Linked DNA regions of Homo sapiens. The protein of the gene in region 1 interacts with the protein of each later gene in a pairwise test. Each region holds a gene or a part of one and is shown in the gene's direction. Other genes may lie near its edges.

The links.
Region 2: the proteins of ZNF69 (region 1) and KATNAL1 interact in binary tests that used the Homo sapiens proteins (3 or more experiments, as listed by UniProt).

What each region holds. Positions count from the first base shown.
Region 1 is NC_000019.10:11,883,135-11,890,880, forward strand, and holds the start of ZNF69 (zinc finger protein 69), read left to right. Parts: upstream 1-4,647; 5' UTR 4,648-4,789; coding exon 4,790-4,852; exon of another isoform or gene 4,853-5,425; intron 5,426-7,746.
Region 2 is NC_000013.11:30,304,503-30,312,733, reverse strand, and holds the start of KATNAL1 (katanin p60 ATPase-containing subunit A-like 1), read left to right. Parts: upstream 1-5,182; 5' UTR 5,183-5,403; intron 5,404-5,722; exon of another isoform or gene 5,723-5,794; intron 5,795-5,877; exon of another isoform or gene 5,878-6,055; intron 6,056-8,231. UniProt on the Homo sapiens protein: Regulates microtubule dynamics in Sertoli cells, a process that is essential for spermiogenesis and male fertility. Severs microtubules in an ATP-dependent manner, promoting rapid reorganization of cellular microtubule arrays.

The sequences.
Region 1 (7,746 bases):
CAGAAAAAAAAAAAAAGCTATTTTCCACGTCCCCAGGCACCAAAAATCCTATCTTTCAAGAGTTAAGAAAATAACCTAGCAAATCAGATAATCCGAACCAGCTGCCGTTTCTCCTGTAGGCACTGAAGGGAATTCAAATGTTATTTAAACCTCTTATGAAAGAAGTCCTATCCCACCTAAATTAGAGGACCCATTAAAGACCTCAAGCTATGTATAGCACAGTTAAAGTTTATATGTGTATGAAAATGTACATCCTTAGCCAAACAAGTCTAGAAACTTAGTTGCCATAACTCAAATGTCTTCTGTCTTCCTATTAATCCAAACTACCTCTCAAAGCAATCCACTGCCAACATTCCTACATACTTGGTTTATCTTCCACTTTCTCTTCCCTCAAAACTCACAATTTTCCAGTACAGGTGCGGCTCCTGGAGTTCCCAGTGCGTCAACACCGGCCTGAGGAGCTGGCCTAGTACTTCCCACCATTGAAACTGCAGTCTGGACAGCAGAGAAAGGATAGACCCATCACACCCGAGTCAAGAAAGCACCGCCACCCCCAAAGTCGTAGGCCATTATTCCAGGGGAAAACCCCCTCAAACTAAAGCTAAGAAAAATTTAACCTCTTACATCTATTCTATTACTCTTTCTTCTTTTCCCCTTCCAATGCTGACCACCTTGTCATTAATGTAACTCAATCAAACTCACCCCAAGTTATCACGTTTAATGCTATGTCTAGTCATACCCTGTAAAGATCTCCAAAGTCAAAGACAAGTCTCAGCCTCAGAAAAGTATCTCTGCCCCTTTAAGGTGAAAGGCCCCCCCTACCAAGACTCTTGTTCCTTAACAAATATAAGAAAACAAGTCTGTCATAGCTAGAATGATGTCCTATGGACAACCAAATGTCAAGGCTAGACCTCATCAGCAGGTGGCTGTATATCCTTAAAACCATACATTCATTTCACTAAAAAAAGCACCTCCCCAATTGCCAGTATAATCAATGTAATCCCATACAAATTTCCACCTCTACTGACCCTAAACCTACTTTAAGTCACTTCTATGGAACAGGAGCCAACTTGGCCAGCACAGACCTCATAAGATCTTTCGAAATGCGTTTTATTAATCCTTCATTCTCTTCACCCCCTTCCTTCTCTTCTCCTTCTAAGCTTTCTTCTAATCAGACTGCCACCTGTTTTCTACCTAATGATACTACTAAAGTAAATATTGTAGAAGTAAAAGATTTAAGACAAACCCTAGCAATTAAAACAGGATATCAAGATGTAAATACCTGGTTGGAATGGATTCAATATTCCGTCCGCACATTGAACAAAAGCAATTGTTACGCTTGTATGCATGGCAGACTAGAGGCCCAGACTGTTTCCTTTCCACTAGGATAGCCCTTCAGCCGACCAGGCATAGGCTGTATGGTAGCTCTTTTCCAAAATTCCACAGCCTGGGGCAACAAATCATGCCAAGCTCTCTCTCTGCTATATCCCGAAGTCCAACAACCTGCAGGCCAGCCCCCAAAGGCCATTCAGCTTCCTTCTCCTGACGTCAATTTCACCTCATGTCTCTCACGACGAGGGGAGAATCTGGCGTTCCTTAGAAGCTTAACAAGATGCAATAAGCTTAAGCCCTTCCAAAAACTTACCCATCAGTCTGCCCTTAGTCATCCTCAAGCAGATGTATGGTGGTATTGTAGTGGACCTTTACTGGATACTCTGCCAAGTAACTGGAGCGGCACTTGCGCTCTTGTCCAATTGGCGATCCCTTTCACACTGGCATTTCATCAACCAAAAAAAAAGAAAAGCCACAACACCAAAAAATAAGAGAAGCCCCTTATAAGTCTTTTGACTCTCAAGTTTACATAAAGGCCATTAGAGTCCCATGGGGAGTGCCTAACAAGTTCAAAACCTGAGACCAAATAACTGCAAGATTTAAACCCATATTTCCCCGAATAACTATTAATAAAAATGTAGCTTCGATAAATTACATCTATTATAATTAGCAGCAGTTTATGAATTACACCAAGGATCTTATCAAAAAACAGCTGACCAGTTAAGGCCTACTAGCCAAATAGCTTAAGAAAACAGAATCACTTGACTGGGCGCGGTGGCTCATGCCTGTAATCCCAGCACTTTGGGAGGCCAAGGTGGGCGGATCACAAGGTCAGGAGATCGAGACCATCCTGGCTAACATGGTGAAACCCCCGTCTCTACTAAAAAATACAAAAAAAGTATCCGGGCGTAGTGGCGGGCACCTGTAGTCCCAGCTACTGGGGAGGCTGAGGCAGGAGAATGGCGTGAACCCGGGAGGCAGAGCTTGCAGTGAGACAATATGGTGCCACTGCACTCCAGCCTGGGCCACGAAGTGAGACTCCATCTCAAAAAATAAAAACCAGAATGGCTCCAGACATGTTATTAGCCAAAAAAGGTGGAGTTTGTGTTATGATTAAAACCCAGTGTTGTACCTTCATTCCAAACAACACTGCCCCCAGTGAGAGCATAACAAAGGCCTTGCAAAGACTTACCGCTTTATCCAATGAATTAGCTAAAATTTCTGGAGTCAATGACCCTATTTCAAGATGGCTAGGAAAGTAGTTCAGTCAATAAAGAATCATAGCCTCAATACTTATTTCTTTTACAGTCGTAACAGGTGTACTTATTCTTGTTAGGCGTTGTGTCATACCATGCATCCGTAGGCTAATACAAAGGATTGTACGAACAGCATTTACTGAAACCTCCCTTAGTTCTCCTCCACCTTATTCAAGTAAGCTTTTCCTTTTAAAAGATCAAATCAAACAGCAAAGCCAAAACACGTTAAAAAAGTTTAAAGAGAAAAAATCATAAGAAAATTAAAAGGGAGGAATTGTAACATACAGTAAATTTCTCTGAGTTTCTTTTTTTTTTTTTTTTTGAGACGGAGTCTCACTCTGTCACCCAGGCTGGAGTGCAGTGGCGTGATCTCGGCTCACTGCAAGCTCTGCCTCCTGGGTTCATGCCATTCTCCTGCCTCAGCCTCCCGAGTAGCTGGGACTACAGGCGCCCACCACCACGACTGGCTAATTTTTCGTATTTTTTAGTAGAGACGGGGTTTCACCATGTTAGCCAGGATGGTCTCGATCTCCTGACCTCGTGATCTACCCGCCTCAGCCTCCCAAAGTGCTGCGATTACAGGCGTGAGCCACCGCGCCTGGCCTCTCTGAGTTTCTCTTCAAAGACTTAGCCTGCTAACTTCCTTGTCTTTTGTTCTCCAGCTCAACTTTCCTGTTCCTCCTTGCCCCTAGTTACTGTAAAACAGCCTACCCCCTTCCCGTCAGCTCTAATCAATAACTCACATCTGTTCCCTTGGTTACCTGTACCCATTGTTCCCCCGAAACTGCACGTCTCACACGCTCCATCTCTGTACCTCACGTTCCCCTCTCCTTCTATATTTAGAAAAATACGTACAAGTAGCCAGTCGGGTCAGCTCAGATTGTGTGGTCGAACCCCAGCCCATGAAGGAGTGACACAGAGATAGGGACCGCATTAAGGATAAAAAAACCCCCGGTGACCTTTGTTCTCTGTGCTCTTGTGATCTTGATTGACACAAGTGGCACACTTCTGCAGAAGTAAATTGCCTTGCTAAACAAATGAAACTTTCCCCTAAGTGCTAGTTTTACTTCGTGGGACCAAGAATTTATTCCTAAAGCATTTTATATCCGACAGAGATATTCATATATATAAAGAAAATGTGGGCCAGGCGCGGTGGCTCACGCCTGTAATCCCAGCACTTTGGGTGGCCGAGGCGGGTGGATCACTTGAGGTCAGGAGTTCAAGACCAGTCTGGTCAACATGGTGAAACCTTGTCTCTACTAAAAATACAAAAAATTAGCCAGGCGCGGTGGCATGTGCCTGTAATCCTAGCTGCTGGGGAGGCTGAGGCAGGAGAATCACTTGAACCCAGGAGGCGGAGGTTGCAGTGAGTGGAGATTGCACCACTGCACTCCAGCCTGGGGGGACAGAGCGAGGCTCTGTCTCAAAAAAAAAAGAAAAGAAAATGTGTGAAGATCAGGCTAGAGACAGAAATGTTTGGGAGCGTCACCTGGATAAAGGGTTCATGAAGTTGGCAGTTTATTTAGGTCAAAAGCTTAACTTAACCCCTGGAGAGAGTTTCCTGCTGGTGAAAATGAAGATCTGGAAGGAGGAAGCATTTTCACACTGTGAGGAGGGGATGGGGGTGTGAGAGCAAGTCTTAGCCATGCCTCATCCCCAGTTGCGGCCCGCTCCAAGACATATGCCTCTCCTCCTGGCGCAGTCGTGTCTGGCCTGGTCTCGGTTCCCCTGCTGCTCTGAGGCAGGAGATGGCTCCTGTGGACACTGAATCTGAAATTCCCTGCACACTCCTGTGACCCCATGCAGAACGAAGGAGCAGGGACAGTCCCTTGAGTGAGGAAGACGCTAGTGTTCTCCTCTATCAATAGCAAGTTTGGCTGAAATGCAAATATCCAATAACCAGAGTGCAGGAAGGAGCTCGCCCTTGGAAAAGCTGTGGTCAGAATCCGTCTGTCTGGCTCTGCAGGGCCCGATACCCAGGGCTTCCGCTGTCACTCAGACATGGGGGGCGGGGCCTAGCATTCCATCCAATCAGAGGCATTGTGGCGGGTCCCTGCCCACTGTTCCTCCAGACACTGAGGGGGTCGCATTCCTTACCTCACCTTTGTCCCTGCGCGGGCTGCGGCTGGGATCCGGTCTTTCCAGCCCCGAGAGGGACCTGGTTCCTCTGCCCAGGCTTCTGTCACTCTGTCACCTACGCTATGCCCTGCTGTAGTCACAGGAGGTGTAGAGAGGACCCCGGGACATCTGAAAGCCAGGAAATGGTGCGTGTCTGGGGCCGGGTGTCGTGAGACGGGGGAGGGGCTGCCTGGACCGACCGGAACCGACTGTGGCGAGACCCTGGCTTTCCTGCGGGCGACTTTGGGATCTGGGACCGAGTCCTCCTGGAGCCGCTCGGCCCTCGGTCCCCTCGACTGCTCGGTGTGGCTGGGCCGGTAGCCGGGACACCAGGCGTCCTGTCTCGTCTCTGCGCGGCGACTGCGGTTCCAGAGCCCTCTATGGGCAGCTCCGCGCCCGCAGCCACGCGTCTACCCAGATTGTGCGGGGGCCACGGGAGGGTCATGTGGGTGATCCCGACTCGGGTGTGGGGTTCGTGCTTGGGAGGAGCAGCGGTCTGTGGGGCCCCCAGTGTCCACTTTTTCTCCTGTTAAAAATTAAACTGAGGAACGTTAACAAAGAGTTCATTTGAGCAAACAGCGATTCACGAATGAGACACACCCAGTCCTGGCTTGTGGTTTGTCAACGGAAAAAGCCAAACTATGTAAAATAAAGAAGTTTATTCGGAGCCGAATAGGAGAGACCTTGGCCGAGGGAAAAACAACCCCAAGAAGCCTGGAGTAAGTGGTCCCGAGGCGGCTCAAGACAGTTTGGTTTTATTCATTTTAGAGAGACAGGAATTGCAGGGAAAATCATGAATTAGTGCCTGGAAGGTGTAATTTCCTTAGGCAGAAAGGGAGGGACCTGGCCGGGCACGGTGGCTCACGCTTGTAATTCCAGCACTTTGGGAGGCCAAGGCGGGCGGATCACCTGAGGTCAGGAGTTCAAGACCAGCCTGGCCAACATGGTGAAACCCCGTCTCTACTAAAAATATAAAAAAGAAACTAGCCGGGCGTGATGGTGGACGCCTGTAATCCCAGCTACTCGGGAGGCTGAGACAAGAGAATTACTTGAATCCAGGAGACAGGTTGCAGTGAGCCCACACAGTGCCACTGCACTCCAGCCTCAGCACAGAGTGCGACTCTGTCTCAAAACAAAAACAAAAACAAAAAACAGAAAGGGCGGGACCTGTGGAAGGGGGGTTAGAAGGCACAGGTGGTTGAGGGATTCTGTAGGTGGCAGCTGGTTGAGAGTGTGAAGCTTTGTCTAAAGTTTGGAGGAGGTAGGAAGGAATGCTGAAGGAAGGGGGTCTGTTATCTGCCACTTGATTCCATCCCAGCCAAAAAACAGACCTGTTTCTCTAGATTTTATGAATTCTAAGGTGTGACTTACCCTTGTCTTGCGTGGCCTTAGGTCTTGTTTGTAATTTGGTATCTTCTTGCCACAAGGAGTCTGTTTTTCCAGTCAGATAATGTCTGTTTTTACATGAATGTGCGTCAGTTGCTGCATGTAAACTCCTAAAGGGAGAGGGTATAAGGAGGCCTGTCTCACCTCCCATCCTGTCATACAGAGGCACTCAATTTTCAGGGTTTTTTGGGGGTTCCCTTGGCCAAGAGCCGGTCACTTCACTTACCTGGGAAGGTACTTTGTTTTTGTTTTTATTTAAAACAGAGTCTCCTTCTGTCACTCAGGCTGGAGTGCAATGGCTCAATCTCGGCTCACTGCAACCTCCACCTTCCGGATTCAAGCAATTCTCTAGCCTCAGCCTCCTGAGTAGCTGGGATTACAGGCACGCACCTGAAGGGGGCCTGCCCCTCCACCCCTGTGGGTGTTTCTTGTCAGGTAGAGACAAGAGACTGAGTAAAGAAATAAGACACAGAGACGAAGTATAGGGAAAGAACAGTGGGCCCAGGGGACCGGCGCTCAACATGCGAGGACCTGCACCGGCGCTGGTCTCTGAGTTCCCTCAGTATTTATTGATCACTATTTTTACTATCTTGGCGAGGGGAGTGTGGCAGGACAACAGGGTGATGGTGGGGAGAAGGTCAGCAGGGAATCATGTGAGCAAAGGAACCTGTATCATGAATAAGTTCAAGGAAAGATACTGTGCCTGGATGTGCAGGTAGGCCAGATTTATGTTTCACTTTATGCAAATATCTCAGTGTAGCAAAGAGTAACAGAGCAGTATTGCTGCCAGCATATCTTGCCTCCCACAGGGCGGTTTTCTCCTATTTCAGAATAGAATGAATGGTCGGCTTTACACAGAGACATTCCATTCCCCGGAACGAGCAGGAGACAGAAGCCTTCCTCTTATCTCAACTGCAAAGAGGCCTCCCTCTTTCACTATTCCTCCTCAGCACAGACCCTTTAGGGGTGTCAGGCTGGGGGATGGTAAGGTCTTTCCTTTCCCACGAGGCCGGATCTCAGGCTGTCTCAGTGGGGGAAAACCTTGGACAATACCCAGGCTTTGTTGGGCAGAGGTCCCTGCGGCTTTCCGCAGTGCACTGTGCCCCTGGTTAACCGAGAATGGAGAATGGTGATGACTTTTACCAAGCATACTGCCTACAAACATATTGTTAACAAGGCACATCCTGCACAGCCCTAAATCCATTAAACCTTGATTCAATACAGCACAGGTTTCTGTGAGCACAGGGTTGGGGCTAAAGTTACAGATTAACAGCATCTCAAAGAAGAACAATTTTTGTTAGTACATACCAAAATGGAGTTTCTTATGTCTTCCTTTTCTATGTAGACACAGTAACAATCTGATCTCTCTTTTCCCCACATGCACCACCACGCCTGCCTAATTTTTGTGTTTTTAGTAGAGATGGGGTTTCACCATGTTGGCCAGGCTGTTCTCGAACTCCTGACCTCAAGTTACCTACCTGCCTCGGCCTCCCAAAGTGCTGAGATTCCAGATGTGAGCCACCTCGCCAGGCCAGAAGATAGATTTTTATTTTTAGTTTATAGGTTGAAGCCTCAGCTTTTATAAGGTACATGAGGAGACAAACCAGATAAATGCTTGATTGGTTGCAGAGATGCAGTCGCCTTATTTGGACTT
Region 2 (8,231 bases), on another chromosome or scaffold:
AAATCCTTCTCTTCCACTCAGTCAAGTTCCATTTCACTGTATGAGGTCTCTGGTAGTAGTTCCCGGCTTTCTTCATCATTAACTTTCTGCTTCCTCTCACTTGCTAATAACGAGTAAAACTGTAACAAGTAAAGAAGCTGAATTTCTGCATATCTGAGAGAGGACAGATTCCATATGGGTTCAGGCCATACTCTGATGGACAACTGCAGGCTCACCGCTAGTGATCCCTACAGGTCAGGCTGTGACTGGGGTCCAACAGTGACAACTGCTATAGTGGAACAGGATCTTTGCTTTTCATGGACCTGAAATCCAGAGTACCTCTACATGTTAGGACTGGCCCCTTAGCTGCATCTCAGGTCATCTGGCTATTTAAGAACTCCCAATCCTCTAAAGCAGTGTTTCTTAAACCCTTTTGATGGACACTTATGGCAGGAAGTACATCTTACTTAACAATCCATATTAGTCAGGGTTCAGTCAGGAAAAAAGAAACTTTAAGTAGGTATTTTAAGAGCAAGAATTTAGCACAGGGAATTGATTAGACAGATGTTCAAGGACTGAAAAATTAAAAAAGGAACACTGGAGTAATACATAGGTTATAACTGCAAGAAGCAGCTCCCGCCTGAAGGGCTGGAGATCAAAGGGAGGAGAGGAGGTTGGGGTTTGTAGGAAAGGCCTGTTGAAGCTGGGGCACAGGCTCCTGAAGAGGGACACTGTCTGGCTGCTGCTGCAGGTAATGCTTTGGGGAGGAGGGAGAAGAGATGCGATGAGGCTGGTTGAGATACAATAAGAAGCTGGAGACAAGTAAAACTGCCACCAGGCTAAAAGTCTGTGGCAGGAGTGATGCTGCCAAGCATAGCAGGCTGTCAGGAAGGAGCAAGTTGCTTCCCTCTCCTCCAGCCTTGTGCTCTTCCTCTGGTCCTGCTGTGCTGCCCCAGCCTCTCCACCCAGATGACAGAGGAGAAATGTGGTTTGCACAATTCTAGCCCCACCAACACAAAGCAGAGGACAGAGGGTAGGTTTGAAGCTGAAAGATGACAGCTCAGTAACTGCCATACGATACTTGACCCTAACCATGCACATACCCTCTGGATTTCATTTTCTACCGCATTCTATTGCATTCTACTTTACCCTACACTACCTTACCTTATCACTTTTTAAATATGACAAAGCCGGAAGAGACCCATCACATTGACTTCATGACCTACTAATAGACTGTGACCCACAGTGAGGAAAACTCTGCTCTAGATCTTTACGGTAAGAGGGCCTGAACGTTGGAATTCAGTGCTACTTACATACTGAATTCCTTCCACAGCAACAGCGACTTAAGGAATTACCTCCCAAGGTACTCCTCCACTGAATATGTATGGGGGCCCACAGTTATAGGCTTCAGGGAAATTTATATCAAGAGGCTGCAAATGTCCTGCATAGTACTAGAAGAGGGAGAGCTACCAGATAAAGGAAGTTTTGCTAAGGGGAAAAGATAAAAGAACTACCAATCAAAAACATTTATTGTGCCCTTATTATATGTAGAGTATTATGAAGGTGTTTTTGAGAATACCCAGAAATACACGTTGGAGGAGCTTGAAATATAGTGAGAAAAGACAAAAAGCCAATGAGTAAACAATACTGAGCAGCCACTCAGCAGTATGGTCAGCTGTCAAGGGAGTGAGATTGGCAGGAAATATTCTGAGCACAGAGCAGGGTGATATGACTGAGCAGGAATGATCTGGAAAGGTTTCATGTGAAGGTTTGTTTTCAGAATACGTAGACCTTAGATAGGGTAAGGCGCTGGTATCTTAGACGAAGAGAACAGAAGTAACAGAACAAGTTAAGGAAGAGTGGGCCTGCTTGTGCAGTGCTGGAACTTGTGGATCAGAACTAGCAAGAGAAATTGGAGCATCACCCACGGCCAAGGCGGAAGCTTGCAAATGGAAAAGGTGTAGTGACTGAACCTTGGCAACTATCCTCACATTTAAGAAGCAGGTAAAAGAGCTGGTGAATAACATAATGAAGTCTGGTTGGAAAGCTCTGAAGAGATCCAAGGTCAAGGACCCACCAAGGAGGGTAGTCAGCAAAGTCAAATGCCAGAGAGGCCAAGAACTCTAAGAACTGAGGAAAGACCTCAACTGTAAACCAGATGCGCTGTAAATGAGGGTGGTGGCTCTTGACCACACTGCCTGTGTGGATTAATGTGCTACTACTTTCAGCTCCATCTTTTGGATTTGTATAGGGTGTTTAACTATCACTTGAACAGGTCCAAAGTATCTGGTGAAAACAATAAACTATGGTTTACTATCGGTCCTTATTCGTTCCTACCTGTCCATAGCCATGCGAGGCATTTTAAGGCTGTGCTTCAGTGGCTTGTGGTCTTCCCTCCCGCGACTGCCCACCTCCAACTCACTTTTGTGACAGCTTTTGTTTGTGCTGCTGTCATCCATTCTCAAGTGGCCTGTCCTGCTGAGCTGATTTTCTGGGATCCTGGCTTCACAAAACAAGGAGCGTTATGCATTGGGACCTTGTCTTTGGAGACTTCGTCATGGCTGTAGGCTGCACTACAACCTTGGCCAGCTGCCTTGCAAAGAAAGACAAGTGATCGGTCACAAGGGAAACCAGATCAGGGAGAGATGGATCCGGTGAACCTATCATCCCTACTACAAACATGTGTTCAGCTGGTAGCAGATCAGTAACATCTTCTCCAGGAGTAAAGGAGAATTTATTTACATGCTCATTACATATGCAGAGTTGTGACCAAATTGCTGCAGGTGACAGGTCCAAGTTCCTATAAGGATGTCCTATGGCTTCATACCAGACTTTGTTCCGGACTTCATCTCTTAAGTGCTGTCATTTCTTCTGTACAAGCTATGGTTACTTTGGTTTCTTTTCTTCCTCTTAGACAGCAGATTCCAGCTATTATCACATAGCTTCCTCATTTATACTAGAGTAAACCATTATTATGGATGTAAGAAAATGGGTTTCATAAGTGAACCCACTGTGAAGGTAGCCAGGACAGGTGTATTAGTCCGTTTTCATGCTGCTAATAAAGACATAACCAAGACAGGGTAATTTATAAAGGAAAGAGTTTTAATGGACTCAGTTCCACATGGCTGGGGAGGCCTCACAATCATGGCGGAAGATGAAGGAAGAGCAAAGGGGCTTCTTACACAGTGGCAGGCAAAAGAGCTTGTGTAGGGGAACTCCCATTTATAAAGCCATCAGATCTCATGAGACTTATTCACTACCATAAGAACAGTACGGGTGAAACCGCGCCCATGATTCAATTATCCCCACCTGGCCCTGCCCTTGACAGGTGGGAATTATTACAATAAAGTGAGAGGTGGGTGGGGACACAGCCAAACTATATCAACAGGTCATGTACGTAAGCTGCTTAATATTTATTGAGCAGCTACACTGTGGACTGAATCAAATAGAATATGAGGATACATATGTGAAAAAATATTATTTTAATAGCTGGCTCCAGAGTTCCTCTTGGGAAGTTACTTTGTGTAGGAAAAAACTTTGGTAAACAGTTTAGGAATGGCAGGTAGCTATGAAGGCACAGATTAGGAGATGGAAATAAAAGTATTGTATAAAGAGAGGAGAGGAGGGGAGAGATGGGACCAGAAAGATGGTACAATAGTGGGAGGTTACAGGTTATGATGAAAAAATGGGGGTAGGTGGTAGGTGGATAAAAATATCATGGGAGGAACTGAAGGACTTTTAAGAGCAGGGATTTCTAATTTTAGGTTTTTTGCATCCTTAATTTAAAACCACTTATCTGCTCCAAACCTTCTAAAGAGTTGGCTATAGAAACAACCAAAGAAAAGGGGCTGATTTCGAAATTATGTGTCAGCAGGAGTAGAGAGAGGAGAGTTGTAAGAGGTGATATGTGGAGAGGTCTAAGTGTTCAGGAAAAGCAAGAACTGAGAGCCAGAAGTGACGGTGCAATCCTTGAGAGGACATTGGCCGTGGGGAACACCACAAGGTGGATAAGGGACTCAGTCAAGTTCAAGAAAATCTCTGTGGTAGGATGACTCAGCTGGATTACAGGAGCCATTTTTGTTATTTTCAACCATAATTTTTCAGGAGATATTCATTACTAGAAAATGACAAGGTCACGAATTCACTCCCCTTCCTCTTTTTTTCTATTAAATTTCTGGGCCTCAGTTTTCCCATCTATAAAATCTAGAGATTGGGCCTAGAATATCTCTGTAGTTTCCATTAGAGTCTATAGCTCTAATAATAATAACAACACATTTTTATGTTCTCTTTTGAGGTAAATTTACATGCAGTGAAATGTACAAATCTTAAATGTCCCATTCCAAGAGTTTTGACAAGTGCATATACTTCTGTAACCGAAACTCTTAGCTATAGAATTTTTTCATCACTACAAAAAATTCTCTCAAACTCCTCCCCGACAGCCAACCACTATTCTGACTTTTATCACTATTGATTAAATAATTAATATTTAATAGCTATTGTTAAATGCTAAGCTTTGTTTTATAGAGCTTCATCAGTATTAATGCGTGTATTTCTTACAAGAGTTGCAAGATGGATATCTCCATTTTTGCAGATCAAAACGTTAAGAGGTGAGAAAGGCGCCTCTGGTCATCAGCTACCAAGCACAGGGGCAGGACGTGAACTAAGAATTCGTTTTAGAAGCCCACGCTCTTAACCTGTTTATCCTAGAGTCCACAAACGATTGCCAAGAAACAGCATAAATCCAAATTCAGTCGAAAGCAATGCCATTTGCAAATTCTAAAACCTCCTGAATAATCCTAAAGGCCATATGCATTCCATCTTATCGAAGGATTCCCTTCTATCCCCCTCCCCAGAGAATGGAGAAAGGGGGTGCGAAAGACTTCAATTCGGTTTGACTGGAGAAAAACACAGAGGTGGCGTAGGATCCACACATCCCTTGGGGGCAGACCCAGCGGCGGACGCCTGGACAGGCGGCGGGAAAGGCGCTGCGACGCCCCGGGTGCCCCCTCCTTCGACGCCACTGGCATCACCTCCGAAAGCAGCAGGCACGAAGGTGCCCTGCCACGGGGGCTGGACGCAGTGGAGGCAGGCTCATCAAGCACGACCAGAGCTCAGTCGGCCACACGTCCTCCTCAATGTCACTGTCTCCCTGCTCTCCCACCCCGCGCCGCTGCACCTCCCTCCCCCCGGCAACCTGGGCGGGAGTCCCAAGCTCCGCCCCAGAGCGGACTCACAGCCCCCGCGCTCCCTCCCGCGCTGCGCCCACCGCGCGGCCGCGGCTGCCATGGCAACACTACGCCGCCGCCGCCTTTTCACGCACGTCGCGAGCTAACGGACTCGGCGGCGGCGGCGGCGGCGGCCTGCGCCCCACCCGCACCCCATCTGGACCGCATCGCTGAATGTGCCCGGACCTGCGCCTTCTGGGTAATGAATCCGAGAGAAAGGGGCGAGGGCGAGACAGCAGGTGGTGGAGGGCTCTAGCCAACAGCCCCTCTCGGCCTCCCACTGCCGGAGACGCCAGGGCAGTGGGCTGCGGGGTTCCTCGGGCGCTGGCTCCCGTGCGGGGACGGGGAGGGGCGCGGGAGCGCCAGGCTCGCGGTGCATCATGGGAATTGTAGTTCAGCGACTCCTCGGGCTCGCGGTCTTGGTGGGGTAGCTCGGACTGGCGAACTACAAAGCCCGGCGGCCCCGACCGCCGGGAAAGACCGATAAACTTTGAGCGGACCGGGACAGAAAAAAAAATCTCTCTTTGTCTTGAGGGGGCTGTTGAGTGGTCGCGGACCTGGGCTCTGTGCGTTGGGAAAGGGAAGTGGAGGTGAGCCTCGGGCTTCCCGCCCTGTAGCTGGGCCCGCCCCAGTTGCAGCGCTCAGCCCCACCCCGGCTGGGCCACCGCCCTGCACAGTCTCAGGGATGAGCAGCCGCCCAAGCTGCAGGGCCTCGGGTCTTCGGCGCCTCTGACCCTCGCAGGTTGCTGCCTTTCGGTGCAGAACCGTATGTATGTCACACATTGGATGTGAGACCTGAGAAACCGTGTTTTAACAGGTTTTTCTCCTTTCCTGGATACGTTTATTTCTGGGTTAGTCATGTTTGTTTTAAAGTAGCTCAGAGGTGTTTGCATATTAAACCCATCAATTGGTAATTACTCAAAGGGCAGTAATGTTTAAAGGTTAAGTGTGGAAATAGATAAAAAGATGTCATTGCGATTATATGGTGGTATCTGGCATTTTTAACTTTTTGCATTTTTGAATTTTATTTCTTGAGGTTCAAGGTTGTGAAATGAGTGCTCCACCCCACCCCCCCCTTGCCAGCCTGAACACTGCCTACACATATTTTGATTAGTTCAGCTTTAAATTACTAGTAACTTTTAAAAACAGACTTTTTTAGCAGTAGGCAGCAATAATTCTTTGATTATTCCAGTGTTATTCAGAATTTCTCAGCATGTTTTCGGAAGGAAAAATACCATGTTTTAATTATTTAGTTAATTCTTTATATATTTTTTATGTTCAGGAGTACACTTGAGTCCTTAGAGTTGACTCAAAGACTTGCTGGTAAAGGAAGCTGACACAGATTTACGAAACCTTCCTTGACGACCCTTTAAAATTTTTTAATAGGTAGATAACCATCCTAGAAATTTGCTGCTTTATGGAGTAAGTTGGAGAATTGTTGATATTATTGTGAGTTTGTGTGTGTGTGTGTTTAAAAACAAAAAGACCACAAATCCTATAAAACTTTCTCTTAATTAAAATGAAGTTGACCTGTGTAAATTTTACTTGAGGTTGCAATTTTGTACAAGGAGGAGATGGAAAGTAGGTTTAGTAAGACAGGTAGAAAACAAAATTGAGGCCTTATGTGATACAACATAAGGTTTGAAGTATTTTATTTATTCATTCAAAATGTGTTAGGAACCTATGTGCCAGGCATTATGCCAGGTGGTGAGAATAAAGAGATGAAAAAAGATAGTCTGTATCCTGCATGGGCAGTCTTGTCATCACAGTAGTGTGGTAGAGATAAGTGCAAGTTGCTCTAGGAGCCCAGAGGAAATAATCACATAACAGTAACATTTATTGAATATGTCAGGTGCTGTGAGGAGTATTTTGCATGCAACTCCTTACTTAATCCTCAAAACAGTTGGTGAAGTAGTTACTGATTTTTAGAGATGAGGAAACAGGCTTTAGAGGCCTTGCTCAAAATCATAGCTGGTAACGTGTGAACCTGGGATTTCAGCCCAGGTGGGTCTGGTCCTGATCTCAAGCACTGACCATTCTCTGTCATTTAGTAGAAAGATCCTGACTCTGTCTAAGGAAGTCAGGGGAGGCCTTCAGTGTGATTTGACTTTTAACTTGTGTTAAAATAGTTGAATAAGCTTTCACTGGAGTGATGATGAGGAAAGTCATTCTAGGACAAATGGATGGCACAAAATAAGCAAAGGATAGATTGAAGAATCAGTATTTTGTATTTGGGAAACGCTAGGTAGTTCTGAATGACTGGATCCCAGAATACTTGCAATTAGTGGGTGAGGCCAGATCTTAAAGTACTTGGCACCATATTCAGAGTTTAGAATTTTTCTTGATATAGGGCAGTCATTGAAGAATTTTAGCTAGAGTGGTGGTGGCGTCAGATTTGTATTTTAGAAAGATAACTCCAGCCCCAGTGTAGAGAATGGACCTGGGAGGGGAAACATTACAGGTAGTAGAAAAGCCAGTTGTATAATAGAAAAAAACAAAGTCCAGTAGAGAAGTGAAGAGAGTCTGAATTAAGCATTTGGAGTTACAGAAAGACATGGATTCAAGGAATATTTAAGAGATAAAATTGATATGACTTGATAAGAGTTTGGATGTTGGGAGTTAGATTTGGAACTCTTAGCTGATTGATTCCTCAGTTTCTGGCTAGCATGACTGAGGTAATAGTGAATCCGTTGATTGAGATGAGGAGGAGCTGGTTTTTATTGGGGTGAAATATAAAGATATTAGTTGAGTTTTGAGCATTTGTTAGAGGTTCCTATGGGATATTCAGGTGGAGGTGCATTTTAGTCTGGAGTTCAGAGAGAGCAGGCTGGAGTTAGAAGTTTGCATATAGATAAGTAATTAAAGCTACAAGGGAGAATGGACCAGCTCACATTGGAGTAATGAGTAGAAAAGAAAAAGGAAGAGGTTTGGATATGGAACTCTCATTTAAGAAATGTGTGTAGGCCGGGCGCAGTGGCTCGCGCCTGTAATCCCAGCACTTTGGAAGGCTGAGGCGGGCAGATCAGG